Homo sapiens: one gene and its partners. The protein of the gene in region 1 interacts with the protein of each later gene in a pairwise test. Each region holds a gene or a part of one and is shown in the gene's direction. Other genes may lie near its edges.

What was found. Proteins that work in one complex are often made in the same cells at the same time.
Region 2: the proteins of CHRM5 (region 1) and PRSS16 interact in a two-hybrid assay, tested with the Homo sapiens proteins (one large-scale study listed by BioGRID and IntAct).
Region 3: the proteins of CHRM5 (region 1) and ASTN2 interact in a two-hybrid assay, tested with the Homo sapiens proteins (one large-scale study listed by BioGRID and IntAct).
Region 4: the proteins of CHRM5 (region 1) and NPAS3 interact in a two-hybrid assay, tested with the Homo sapiens proteins (one large-scale study listed by BioGRID and IntAct).

The regions. Positions count from the first base shown.
Region 1 is NC_000015.10:34,062,497-34,065,227, forward strand, and holds part of CHRM5 (muscarinic acetylcholine receptor M5), read left to right. Parts: intron 1-146; 5' UTR 147-221; coding exon 222-1,820; 3' UTR 1,821-2,731. UniProt on the Homo sapiens protein: The muscarinic acetylcholine receptor mediates various cellular responses, including inhibition of adenylate cyclase, breakdown of phosphoinositides and modulation of potassium channels through the action of G proteins.
Region 2 is NC_000006.12:27,250,701-27,253,910, forward strand, and holds part of PRSS16 (thymus-specific serine protease), read left to right. Parts: coding exon 1-106; intron 107-341; coding exon 342-419; intron 420-516; coding exon 517-564; intron 565-1,049; coding exon 1,050-1,340; intron 1,341-2,107; coding exon 2,108-2,249; intron 2,250-3,210. UniProt on the Homo sapiens protein: Protease that may play a role in T-cell development.
Region 3 is NC_000009.12:117,412,258-117,416,189, reverse strand, and holds the start of ASTN2 (astrotactin-2 isoform g precursor), read left to right. Parts: upstream 1-1,132; 5' UTR 1,133-1,251; coding exon 1,252-1,693; intron 1,694-3,932. UniProt on the Homo sapiens protein: Mediates recycling of the neuronal cell adhesion molecule ASTN1 to the anterior pole of the cell membrane in migrating neurons. Promotes ASTN1 internalization and intracellular transport of endocytosed ASTN1.
Region 4 is NC_000014.9:33,795,879-33,799,378, forward strand, and holds part of NPAS3 (neuronal PAS domain-containing protein 3), read left to right. Parts: intron 1-1,578; coding exon 1,579-1,703; intron 1,704-3,500.

The DNA.
Region 1 (2,731 bases):
GAGAGCTGAGATCGCACCACTGCACTCCAGCCTGGGTGACAAAGCGAGATTCTGTCTCAAAAAAAAAAAAAAAAAAAACTATAAACAATGGATGGACAAGAAAATCATGCTGGTGTGCGAAGCTAATGTGTTTCCCTCTCTTCCAGATGCTGGCCAAGAAGAGCTGAAATAGAAAACAGCCTAGAACCTAACACTATTTACTGTAAAATTTTTGCACCAGGATGGAAGGGGATTCTTACCACAATGCAACCACCGTCAATGGCACCCCAGTAAATCACCAGCCTTTGGAACGCCACAGGTTGTGGGAAGTCATCACCATTGCAGCTGTGACTGCTGTGGTAAGCCTGATCACCATTGTGGGCAATGTCTTGGTCATGATCTCCTTCAAAGTCAACAGCCAGCTCAAGACAGTTAACAACTATTACCTGCTCAGCTTAGCCTGTGCAGATCTCATCATTGGAATCTTCTCCATGAACCTCTACACCACCTACATCCTCATGGGACGCTGGGCTCTCGGGAGTCTGGCTTGTGACCTTTGGCTTGCACTGGACTACGTGGCCAGCAACGCTTCTGTCATGAACCTTCTGGTGATCAGTTTTGACCGTTACTTTTCCATCACAAGACCCTTGACATATCGGGCCAAGCGTACTCCGAAAAGGGCTGGCATCATGATTGGCTTGGCCTGGCTGATCTCCTTCATCCTCTGGGCCCCAGCAATCCTCTGCTGGCAGTACTTGGTTGGGAAGCGGACAGTTCCACTGGATGAGTGCCAGATCCAGTTTCTCTCTGAGCCCACCATCACTTTTGGCACTGCCATTGCTGCCTTCTACATCCCTGTTTCTGTCATGACCATCCTCTACTGTCGAATCTACCGGGAAACAGAGAAGCGAACCAAGGACCTGGCTGACCTCCAGGGTTCTGACTCTGTGACCAAAGCTGAGAAGAGAAAGCCAGCTCATAGGGCTCTGTTCAGATCCTGCTTGCGCTGTCCTCGACCCACCCTGGCCCAGCGGGAAAGGAACCAGGCCTCCTGGTCATCCTCCCGCAGGAGCACCTCCACCACTGGGAAGCCATCCCAAGCCACTGGCCCAAGCGCCAATTGGGCCAAAGCTGAGCAGCTCACCACCTGTAGCAGCTACCCTTCCTCAGAGGATGAGGACAAGCCCGCCACTGACCCTGTCCTCCAAGTGGTCTACAAGAGTCAGGGTAAGGAAAGCCCAGGGGAAGAATTCAGTGCTGAAGAGACTGAGGAAACTTTTGTGAAAGCTGAAACTGAAAAAAGTGACTATGACACCCCAAACTACCTTCTGTCTCCAGCAGCTGCTCATAGACCCAAGAGTCAGAAATGTGTGGCCTATAAGTTCCGATTGGTGGTAAAAGCTGACGGGAACCAGGAGACCAACAATGGCTGTCACAAGGTGAAAATCATGCCCTGCCCCTTCCCAGTGGCCAAGGAACCTTCAACGAAAGGCCTCAATCCCAACCCCAGCCATCAAATGACCAAACGAAAGAGAGTGGTCCTAGTCAAAGAGAGGAAAGCAGCCCAGACACTGAGTGCCATTCTCCTGGCCTTCATCATCACATGGACCCCGTATAACATCATGGTCCTGGTTTCTACCTTCTGTGACAAGTGTGTCCCAGTCACCCTGTGGCACTTGGGCTATTGGTTGTGCTATGTCAATAGCACTGTCAACCCCATCTGCTATGCCCTCTGCAACAGAACCTTCAGGAAGACCTTTAAGATGCTGCTTCTCTGCCGATGGAAAAAGAAAAAAGTGGAAGAGAAGTTGTACTGGCAGGGGAACAGCAAGCTACCCTGAAAAGTCAACAACTCCTCTCGAAAGAACAATGACCACAGTCAACATCCTCTGAGGATGAGCAAGCTGATTCTGGTTTGTATATTTTCAAAAAGAAGACATCTCATTTTGAGTCCTTGAAGATTTTTGTAAAGGCTCAAGTTTGGTTGCCAAATGGAAGGGGCCATAGCTGCAGCAATTGCTGACATATTAAATGACTCTTGCCTATGACCAAGGCCATTTGATGCCAGGGGAGTTTGCCAATGAAGTAAAGGGATAGGCTCATGGCCCTTCACAAGAGGAAGCACACTGGGTAACAATGAACAGTGACTCAGGGAACTTATGCCCCTTCTGTAGGAAACAGCAGAGACCAGGTGGAAACCTTTTCCTGTGGAAACCTGTCATAGAATTTTGTGCAATATGTATGTGTCTATGAAGCTGTCTTGTGCCAGTGAGAACCAGCAGGAGAATGTACAACAGTGTCACTTGTTAACGAGACTGATATTCAACAGGCTTCTAAGAATATGTATCTTCATAAACTGATCACTATCTATTATGCAGCTATTATGTGGTCTATACTATACTGTGGTTTGTTTTCCTGTCCCCACATCTGAGTGAAGGTCTTGCTCTTCCCTTTCATATCCAATGTCAATTCCTTGTACTCACTGAACCCATGCTGATCTCCAGGGAACCATCCTTCCTCTCAGAATCCAGAGTCTGGAAGGACTGAAACCTGGTCATACCCAGTCCTTTCAAGGGGCCTCTTTTCTACTAATAAAGATGGATCAAGTCTCCACAGTCAGTTATTTTAGTTTTTGCCAGTGGAAATTTTTTCTTTTATCTAAACAGATATTGTGCATTCTATTTTGTGCCCATTTGAACCCATTTATTTATGCTCTGTTCTTAGGAAGACTAATTGTGTAAGAGCCCTTCAC
Region 2 (3,210 bases), on another chromosome or scaffold:
TGCCCGCCTGGCACTTTCCCGCCTCTTTAACATCTCCTCCTCCAGCCCCTGGATCTGCTTCGGAGGCTCCTATGCCGGCTCCTTGGCCGCCTGGGCCCGGCTGAAGGTCCTGCGACTCCTCCGGGTGGGCTGGGGGGAGGGAACTCGGACTCCAGGGCCCCAGTCTCAGATAATAGGAATACCCTCCCACCACGCCCCTACCTTCCTCCCGCGCCCAAAGAATTTTGCACAAGCTGTCCTCACAAGAGCCCGAGATTACACAGCGAGTAAGTGACACAGAGGCAGAAAGATATGCGATTCCAACCCCTCAGCCCGCAGGCTGACGGCGTCTCCTCCCTTAGTTCCCCCATCTCATTTTCGCGTCGGTCGCCTCCTCCGCCCCGGTGCGGGCCGTGCTGGATTTCTCCGAGTATAATGACGTAAGGATGGCGGGCAGCAGGTGCGGGACGGGGAGGGGTCCCAGCGGGCGGAGTCCCTTGACACTTCCGGATACCTTCCTCTGCGGTCCGCCCACAGGTGGTATCCCGAAGCCTAATGAGCACCGCGATCGGCGGGTCCCTGGAGGTAGGAGGTGGGGCCTAGTCCGAGGGGGACTGGGAGGGAAAAGAGGCCTCGGATGCCAGGGAAGAGGAGGCCAGAGAAGGGCGAAACCTGCAACGTGGCGGGGTCTAAGGAAGGTCGGAGCTCGGGGGAATACGCAGGTTTTGGAAGAAGGCGGGAGCTGACGAAGAGGAGGGGCACCAGGAAAAGAGGCGCTCCCCAGAGAGGGCGGGGTTTGGGCAGGGACAATCCTATCCGGAGGTGAGGCTCAAGGTGGGGCGGGGCCACAATGGAGGACGGGGCCTGCAGGGAAGACCCGAGAAGGAGGGCTGCGAGGCAGGGGATTGGGGGCGGGGGCCTGGGGGCGGGGGCCTGGGCCAAGAGCTAGGTCTGCACCCTCTGAGTCCCGCTAGGGGAAAGTGGGGAACCCAAGGAGGACGCAGGTCCTGGGTAGGGAAAGCCGAGGCCCAGCCTAAGTCTTGGCGGACATCGCCTCTTGCTTCCCACAGTGCCGGGCGGCGGTGTCCGTCGCCTTCGCTGAAGTGGAGCGGCGGCTGCGCTCGGGTGGGGCGGCTCAAGCAGCATTGCGGACGGAGCTGAGCGCTTGCGGGCCCCTGGGCCGCGCTGAAAACCAGGCGGAGCTGTTGGGGGCGCTGCAGGCACTGGTGGGAGGTGTAGTGCAGTATGATGGGCAGACGGGAGCGCCGCTAAGCGTGCGACAGCTCTGCGGACTTCTCCTCGGGGGCGGGGGCAACCGCAGCCACTCCACGCCCTACTGCGGGCTTCGTCGGGCGGTGCAGGTGAGCACTCCCTGGCACAGCTGGGAGGAGTTAGCGGACAAAGATTCCTGCCCCACTTCCGTTGTGTGATCTTGGGCAAGCGAGAACCTTCTCTGAAACTTCGTTTTCTCATCTGTAAAATGGGGATAACACTTCACAGGGCCGATGGGAAGATGAAATGAGGCGGGTCATGTAGAGCAATCAGCTGGGAGCCTGGCACACAGTGTGCGAATGTTAGAGACTGCGATTATTACCTATTTTGCCTATCCTGTCCTGTTCTCTTTTGGGGGGCCTGCAGGAGTGCCTGGCACATGGCAAATTCTCACTTAGTATTTTTAGAATGAATGAAAAAATGTTATCTCTGGGGATAGGGTTCTCCTAGGTACCTGGGACTGCAGCCTCTAAATCCACAACTGCAATCCAGCTGTCGCTTTTCCAGCACTGTCTGGACCAAGTGCTGTATAAAGTGCTTCACATATATTATTTCATTAAGTTCTCAAGAGATAGGCACTATTATTATCGCCACTTACAGAAAAGGAAACTGAAGTCTGAAAGATTATCACTTGCCCAAGCTCTCACAGGTAATAAGGTCTCAGTCTTCTAGTGCATTGATCTCTAACTCACAAGGACCCAGGCATCCACCCCCTCTGACCACTGACTCCCAGGAGAACTCAGGAACTCACCCTTCTATTTCTGACTTTTGACCTCTGGGGACATAGGCCTCTGCACCCTGGCTTGCTGGGAAGAGAGGAGGAATTTATGTCTTATGTATGTACATTGTTCCCTAGATTGTCTTGCACAGCCTGGGCCAGAAGTGTTTAAGCTTTTCCCGAGCAGAGACAGTGGCACAGCTGAGGAGCACAGAACCTCAACTGTCTGGTGTGGGTGACCGGCAGTGGTTGTATCAGACATGTACCGAGTTCGGCTTCTGTAAGTGACTGGCCTAACCCTAACTTTGTCCCCTCAAACAACCTTTTTACTATGCCCAGAGAAGTCATCTTACAGGTGGTCTGGACTCATTTCGACCCAGCTCTCAGGCACTGTGTAACCTGCAGATGTTGGGCTGGAGAAGGTGGAAGCCATACTAGTGTATGCATGTGCTTGGCCCTCACATGCCTCCTCACGCACACACTGAGGTCTCCACTTGAGTGATCTTCCCTTCAGCCTATTCTTTCTCTGTGTCCCCATTCCAGGGATGGCCCCCTTTCCCCATCCACCAGACTAGAAACTTGAGCCTTGTTTTAGTTGCTTCCTTCCCATTTTCTAGCTAGCCTGTCAATTACTGAGTCCTCCTCACTCTGCATGGACAACTCTGTAGTCCATCCCTTGTGCTTTCTATGCCTACCTCTGCTGTCCTGCTGGGAACCTCCATTCTTTCTTGCCGGGATCCCTTCCCAGCCGCTTCTCTGGTCTCATGGTTTTCACTTCCTCTGTACAATCCAACTTTTTCATAGCATCCACAGAGATCCTTGTAAATATAACCTTGTCCCTCCTGTACTCAAAACCACAGCTCCTCAAAGACCCCAGGGTAGTGTTGCCAGATACAATACAGGATGCCCAGTTAAATTTGAATTTCAGATATACAACAGATTTTTTTTTAGTATAAGCATGTCCCAAATACTACATATGGTAAATTAAATGTTCAAATTCCAGCTCCATTTTCTACTCGTAATCTTGGGCAAACTTGGGCAAGTGACTTACTTCTCTATGCCTGTTTCCACATCTATAAAATGGGAATACAAGCAATATTTCTCTCATAGGGTTGTTTCAAGGACTAAAGGAGGTAATATTTGTAGCATTCTAAGAATAATGCAGGTCTACAGTAAGTATTCCATAAACCTCTTGCTATTGTTATTATTATAAGGCTTTACATATTTTAACCCTCTTAATA
Region 3 (3,932 bases), on another chromosome or scaffold:
GAAATGAATGGAGAGATGAAACAGAAAACAGAGACAGGGAAGATGAAGAAAAGTAGGGGAGTGGGGAAGGGGCTGCACGGCACTTGACCCATGCAGAGGTGTCCGCTCCCTGGAGGGTCTCAGGTATGTGGGTCAGAGACAGAGTCAGCCCAAGACCAAAGGGTGCTGAATCTGAGGACCTAGCTCAACTTGAGTCTAGAAAGACTGCAGGTGAAGAATTGGTGAGCACTCCCGTTCTCTGGGACTTGGGCAGAGGATCTAAAAGACCCGGGAGCCAAGGACAGACAGAATAGTAGGTCTCTACCTCACACCCTTTTCAGGAATTTCACACAGAGAGCAGAAGCAGCCAAGTAGAGCTGCTCCAAGCTGGGAGCAGGGATCCAAAATAAAAAAGCGTGAGTGGGCTGGCTTGCAGGGCGGCAGCTAGGGGGCCAGAACAGCCCGGCTTCAGTCAGTTGTGGGGTCGGCGTTAGACGGTGGAGTTCGACGCCCCTCTGTCCATTAGCAATTAGTGCTAGCACAAGGCCTGGATGGAGGGGAGAGGAAGGTTTGCGGGCAGTGGGAGAATGAATGCAGGAGTTGTGGCCAAGTGGGTGGGAAGGGGGCTCTGAGGCTACAGGAAGTTATTTCAGAGACTAGAAAAGGGTAGGAGATTGGAGAAAGGACTTGTTCTTGGGCCTGAGGGGAGACAAAGTTAAGTCTTGGCTATCCAGGGGGCTCCCTATCCCCAAGAAGGCGGGGCCTTGAGCAAGGCTGGGCCAAGGCGCGCCCCCAGGTGCAGCCTCTGGGTTGAGCCGAAGGTGGGGTGAAGCCAGGAGAACTGGGTTGAGTCAGGGGGGCTTGGGGGGGCCCGAGGGGGCCCTAAGTATTAGGAATTTGGGGAGTTTAGGGAGGGGTGTTGTGGCTAAAGAATGCTGTGAGGGCGGAATTGGGGGATCTTGGGAAAGGGGAGGGAGCCACTGGGACTTGCACGAGGCCGGGCGGAGCCTCCGAAACGCTCGGGGTCTGCGGGGGGAGCCGGAGATCGGGGACGGGCGGCTGGGCCCCGGGAGGCGGCGCGGGGGGGCGGTCCAGGGCCGATCGGGAGGCGGAGCCCGGAGCTGGGGGCTGCTGGCGAGCGGCTCTCTCCGCTCCTTAGCTCGGGCGTCCTGGTTCGCTTCGGCGTCCGCCGTCTCCGCAGCTGCCTCCTCTTCCTCCTTCGCCACCGCCGCCACCGCCGCCGCCGCCCGCAGCACCGCAGCCCCTCCCGCCATGGCCGCCGCCGGCGCCCGGCTCAGCCCCGGCCCCGGCTCGGGGCTCCGGGGGCGGCCGAGGCTCTGCTTCCACCCGGGGCCGCCGCCACTGCTGCCGCTGCTGCTGCTGTTCCTGCTCCTGCTGCCGCCGCCGCCGCTGCTGGCCGGCGCCACCGCCGCTGCCTCGCGGGAGCCCGACAGCCCGTGCCGGCTGAAGACCGTCACGGTGTCCACACTGCCCGCCCTGCGGGAGAGCGACATCGGCTGGAGCGGCGCCCGCGCCGGGGCCGGGGCTGGGACCGGGGCCGGAGCCGCCGCCGCCGCCGCGTCCCCGGGCTCTCCTGGCTCTGCCGGCACCGCCGCCGAGTCGCGCCTCCTGCTCTTTGTGCGTAACGAGCTGCCGGGGCGCATCGCGGTGCAGGACGACCTGGACAACACCGAGCTGCCCTTCTTCACCCTGGGTAAGGCTGGGCGCCGGCACGCGCTAGATCCCAAGGAACCCCGAGCCCCTGCGTCATGCCGGACGGGTGGGGGCGCCCTGGGGATCCCTGCCCGGGGCTGCCCCGAGTGGGGTTGGCAGAGGGTAGAGGAGGGGCCCAGAGGTCGCACAGGTGGTTGGAAACGAGCATGTGGGAGGAGGTCCTGGAGAGCGCGCGGCGGGAGCCTGGGGGCGTGCCAACCCTCCCGCAGTGGGAACCTGCCCCTCTGCCTCTCAGTCCCGACCTGGAGCTCTGCTTGATCCATCCCGGAAGCCGGAGACCCCATTCACTGAAGGTGCTCTGGCTAGGGGCCGGAGCATCCCAGATCCTAAGCCAGTTTCAGGTCGAGCCTCCCACTTCTCCGGGTACCGTCACTGGCCACCCGCCGTCACCGCCCCCTCGCTCTCGCCTCGGAGTTGCGGGTTCTGCCCTTCCAGATGGATTTTCATGAGAGTAGGAATGGAGTAGTTCCGTGTGGAATCGCTCAACCCGCAAAAGCGTGGCTTCCGCATGGGCTGAGTGACCTTGGCCAAGTCGCTTCCCTTCTCTGAGCCTCAGTTCTGGCCATCTGTGAAATAGGGCTGGAGAGACTTGAGTGGTTGCTGAGAACTGGGATTCCGACTCCGAGGTCTCCACGTTTAGAGCCTCCCTCTACCCCCGTTACCGCCTTCCCTTTCTACCCACCTCCAGGCAGAGAGCCGGTTTGTCCTTGCAGCTCACTCCCTGGGCTAATAATAATTACTTAAAGGCAAGAAAAAGGAGAGGAGAGGAGATGGGTGTGGGTGGGGGGCTCCAACGGAAAAGTTAATCAGAAAAGTTCGCCAGCAGCTTGCTGCCTGCTGGTTCCCTGCGCGAATCCCGGAGGAGTCGGCCCTTCAGTGGAGCTGTGGGAAGCGCAGCTGATTTCCCACCCGGGTAATTGATAGCTTAATTATCTCGGAGAGCGTTTACAAAAATGTTGTTCCCCTTAGCTCTCCCGCGCTCGCTGCTTGCTCGCTCTCCCCTCCCCTCTTGGGGGCGCGGGGCCTTATTGGTTGTCGGAGTCTGGCCAACAACAGCGCCCGTGAGGCGCCAGGGGCTCGCCCAGACCCGGAGCTCTTCTTCCCCGGGTCTTTTCCTCGGCGGGATCCGCCTCGGGCACCGCAGGTGAGGGGCCTTCCAGGTGAGAACCTTTACGATCCCTGAACTTCCGAGGTTAACTCCTTGCTCGCCTGAAAAGACCCACAGAATAATCAGCGGACTACGCTCCACTCTCCTGGTAGCCCTGATATTGTTAAAAGTATTTTTGTGACCCACTCCCCATCCTTTCATGCTACCACCTCTGGGGATTTGAGCGAGTGCCAGTGGTTCTCCCGCTCTGAGCTTGAACCTCGGGGGTCGAGCCCCTGTACCCACCCTCGCAGGCTGTAACCTGAGCGTGCCGAGCGTTCCGGGAGGAGAGGCAGCGGAGCGTCCTGCAGGTTCCTCGGGGACTCCCCGCGGCGGCGCTTCTGGGGTGCGACGCACCAAGCACACACACACAGACACACACAAACCAGTAGCTCTTCCCACGTGCACCTGTGGGGCTGCCCATGTCCGAGAAAGGGAAGGAGGGTGGAGGTGGTGTTCCTTAGAGCGCCGCCGGACTAACCTCAGGCTCACAGCTGGCTCTTGCCACCTCCCCGTGGGGAAGGGTCTTTCTAGAGACACAGAAGGTATCCCTTCACTACCACTTCCATTCCTGACCTTCTCCCTTCATCCTTTAGATCTCTCTACTCCGGGGTACTCTGAGAGATGAGGGGTGGAAATCCTCCCGCCCCCCAAACGGCCATTCAAGTGAAGGGATGAGACGGTCCTTGGGTATGGCCTGACTTGGCAGTGAGGACCACAGAGCATTTCAAGTCTTCGAGGATATGGAGGACCTGCTCCAACCATCTGTATAGGTGCCCCGGGATTCCTGGAACTGACAATCTTTGCCATTTTTAACTTTGGCTTTCAAACAGGATGGGTGCCTGTGAGCCTGGGACAAGCTGAGTGAGGACCTGAGCGAGGAATTAGAAGTCTTGATTCCCCCAGGACCCATGTGTTGCTTGAGAGTCTCCTGGCAACAACCTGCACATGGAGACTTCCCCCTCCTCTGATGCACGGTCCCTGAGCCTGGCAGCTTGGGACCCTCTGCCCCTTGGAGAGCACGGGGCTGGCCTCCTTGGCAGCGCTGAGCCTTTTGGATGCATGCGGGGGA
Region 4 (3,500 bases), on another chromosome or scaffold:
ACCAGTCTTCAACCTCAAAAGCTTCAATCTCAGGCATAGAAGACCTGTTTTAGCTGACCTAAAAACACTCCCTGAAGTCAATGATAAAGGACTGTAAATTGTAGGGCAAGTGATCTGTGAGCCCCCAAAGAAGACTAAGGTAGATGGGCTTTAGCAGGGGAAACTCCACCAAGACAGCCATTTACTGGTATCACCTCTATAGGGTAAAGATCTAGTAAGAAAATGATGTGGCCCTGGCAATATAGCAACTACAGAAGTTTGGTTTTCTTTCCCACATTCTTGTCTATTATTCTTCCCTGAGCAATACTTTCACATCACTTCTTCCTGCCCAGAACCCTTGCACCCAGGCCCCAATCCAGGCTTGTCCTTCCCTGTTCTGAAACTACTGCTCCTCCAGTCTTCTTCCCATTCCCTCGTGATACTTAACAGAATTATAGACTCAGAGTATTCAGAGACAGAGTCCACCTTCCCACCATTAGTCTCATCTGATTATCTAGAGAAAGCTTTGCTGCTGAAGCTAATTCACACGAAGGAGTAAATGCCTGATAATCCATTTTAGTGAATTACCCCTCCCAGGAACATTTGCAGTTTTAGAGTAGTTACTGAAACAGTGACTCTTTACTATAGGAATTTCGCTAGAGATTAGCAAATGAGTCAGTAATCATCAATTTTAAGTCTCTGCTTGGCTAGCCATCATGGAAAAATCGAAGAGGCATTTCCCATTTTGAAGCAGGAGGATTTCCTTGTGCCTTCAGATTACAGGAGCCTACTCTCCTCATCCATCAGGTGGCCTTGGAGTGGCATTTCCAGAAGACAGGTCAAACTGACTCAACATGCTCTCTCTTCCAAAAGAGCCTTGTTTCCAAACTAAAAATAGAACAAAAATTAAGCACATTTGTGCAAGTGAGGTTAGATCCCTTCTGTTAGGGCCTCTTTCACACTGGGACTCTCCCCACTGCAATCAGATTTCCAGCTAACAAGCCACAGGTGTACACCACACGAGCAGATGAAAATGTGATTGTAATGGGTGTGTTGACAGTTTGGTAGCCATAATCCATGCATCCCAAGGTGCACCTGTGCATCTGTCAGATAGGCACCAAAGGCTCTGCTGCCCCACCAATAGCGTGGGAGCCATCTGAGCGGCTGAGAAGCTACATCAAGGGCCCAAAACAAAGGTACTGAGGCCATGGACTCATTAGGAGCCCAAGAGAAGACACGACACACCAGGAGACATGGGAATGAATTGTTGAGAGTACTTCTCATCCTCCCTTCCCCCAGGTGTACTGTCAAGCAGCACAGTTTCCTGACCCCCAGTGGTACCTGATTATTTAAAAGCTTCTCTCCATGGCTTTCAGGGATTTGGGTATTCGATCATTGCAGCAGGGTGCACCTGTGCCTTGGCACATGCAAGCCAAGCTTCCATAAAATCCCATGAAGAGCTGAGAAATGATTTCATGTTTAGTCTTTGAAACTTTCTAAACTCCAGAAGTCTGGGACAAAGAAGTGGGGGAGAAGATGGTCCAAACAAACCATGCAGAATGGGTGTCTGCACTCCTGACCAGTGCCTCCCTTCCACAGCAATCCTGAGTACAAGGACACACCCATGGACATCGCACAGCTCCCCCATCTGCCGGAGAAAACTTCCGAATCCTCGGAGACATCCGACTCTGAGTCAGACTCTAAAGACACCTCAGGTATTACAGGTATTATTCCTTCTTTTCCATGTTCTTCAGTGAAGCTTGCCCACCACGCGCAGGGGGTGGGCAACAGCCAGAGGGCCATCATCAGAGGCAAAGCAACTGGTCACATTTCAGAGAGACATATGTCACATCAAGTTATTACTGAGTGTCTGCCTCTCTCCAGACACACATATATATAATTGTACACCACTACATACCTGTATGTACTATATAGGTATATATACACACAATACATATAGATATGTAGTGCTGGATAAATACATCTGTGTGTGTGTATATATATACATATATATATATATATGTTTTTGTGTGTATATATACTCACAGAACAAAGAGATCTTTTGAGATCTGACAGATCTCTTTCTTTAAATATACAGAAAGAGATTGATTGCTATTAGCAATCACTTAATGTCAATCCACTGGCCATACAGAAGGAGCCCTGCTCTAACCTCATAGCTAGCTCTCGGCCTCTACTAAAGGCAGGTACTAGGGCCAGCTCCAAGAGAGTCTGTGACTTTGAGCCCCAAATATTCACATTCCCACCAAGCTGGGACTGAGCCTCTAAAGTAGGGTACTTAATGGCATCGATCAATGCCTCTTTCAGGGTGCTGGACTGTTACTTATTTCCTGAATCTATGCAGAACAAACGCATGCATTTTCATTTCCTTTGGGGAAGCGGACTTCCTGAGTAGTTCTTTGGGACACTGAAAATTAGTATAAAAATTTGCTTTTCATCCCATCCCCAGCCCTCTTCCAGAGACACACATAAGGCCAGGGAGCACTAAACTTGTAGGATTTTTACAGCTGCAAGAAAATCCTACACCTCTTTTAACCCTACCTCTTCTGCTACAGAAGGGGAGGCAATGACCACAACTTCTAGTCCAGGCTGCCAGTCAGGCTTCTTCCCTCCATGTTCAGACGCTGTGTTACTGGAAAAATCTGTTCTTTCAAAAATGTGGCAGCTAGGTTTTCCTGACAACCCCCTTCTTGAGGGCACCTGTGCTCCAGCATTGTAAACATGTATCCCTTCCTCCAGACCCAGCTTCAGGGAGGCGGAAGGAGGGCAGAGCACTCAAGGCAGATCTTCATTGTCCTCCTCTCCCTAAATTGCATTAATTTGAAAGTTCTTGACAAAGACATAAAAAGTTCTAGAATTGGTAGTCTCTGCCCCTTTTTAATACAGTGCATAGTTGTGAACAAAACAAAGGAAAATTCCTAGCCCATTGAGCTTATATACTAGTGGGAAGAAGAGACAAGTAAATAAAACTAAAATATACAGTGAGGTGGCAGGGTGGCTCATGCCTGTAATCCCAGCACTTTGGGAGGCTGAGGTGGGCGCATTGCTTGAGTCCAGGAGTTTGAGAGCAGCCTGGGCAACGTGGCAAGACCCTGTCTCTACAAAAAAAAAAAAAAAAAATCAGCCACGTGTGGTGGTGGGCACCTCTGGTCTTAGCCACTCGGGAGGCTGAGGCAGAAGGATCGTTTGAGCCGGGGAGGGCAAGGTTGCAGTGAGCAGTGACCACCCTGCTGCACTCCAGCCTGAGGGACAGAGGGAGACCCTGCCAAAAATAATAATAATAAATAATAAAAATAAAGATATACAGTGAATCAGATGGTGGTAAGTGCTGTGGGGGAGAATAACTTATGGAATAGAAAGGAGAGTGGCTCTCAGTAATGAACAAATATTCACCAAGGGAAAATGCAGACTCTTTAGAAAGTCACCTTGCATGCCATCATTTTTCTGTGTCACACCTTAATCCAGGTTATTTAACCTGACTTCCTGAGTATCTTTGTGGGACT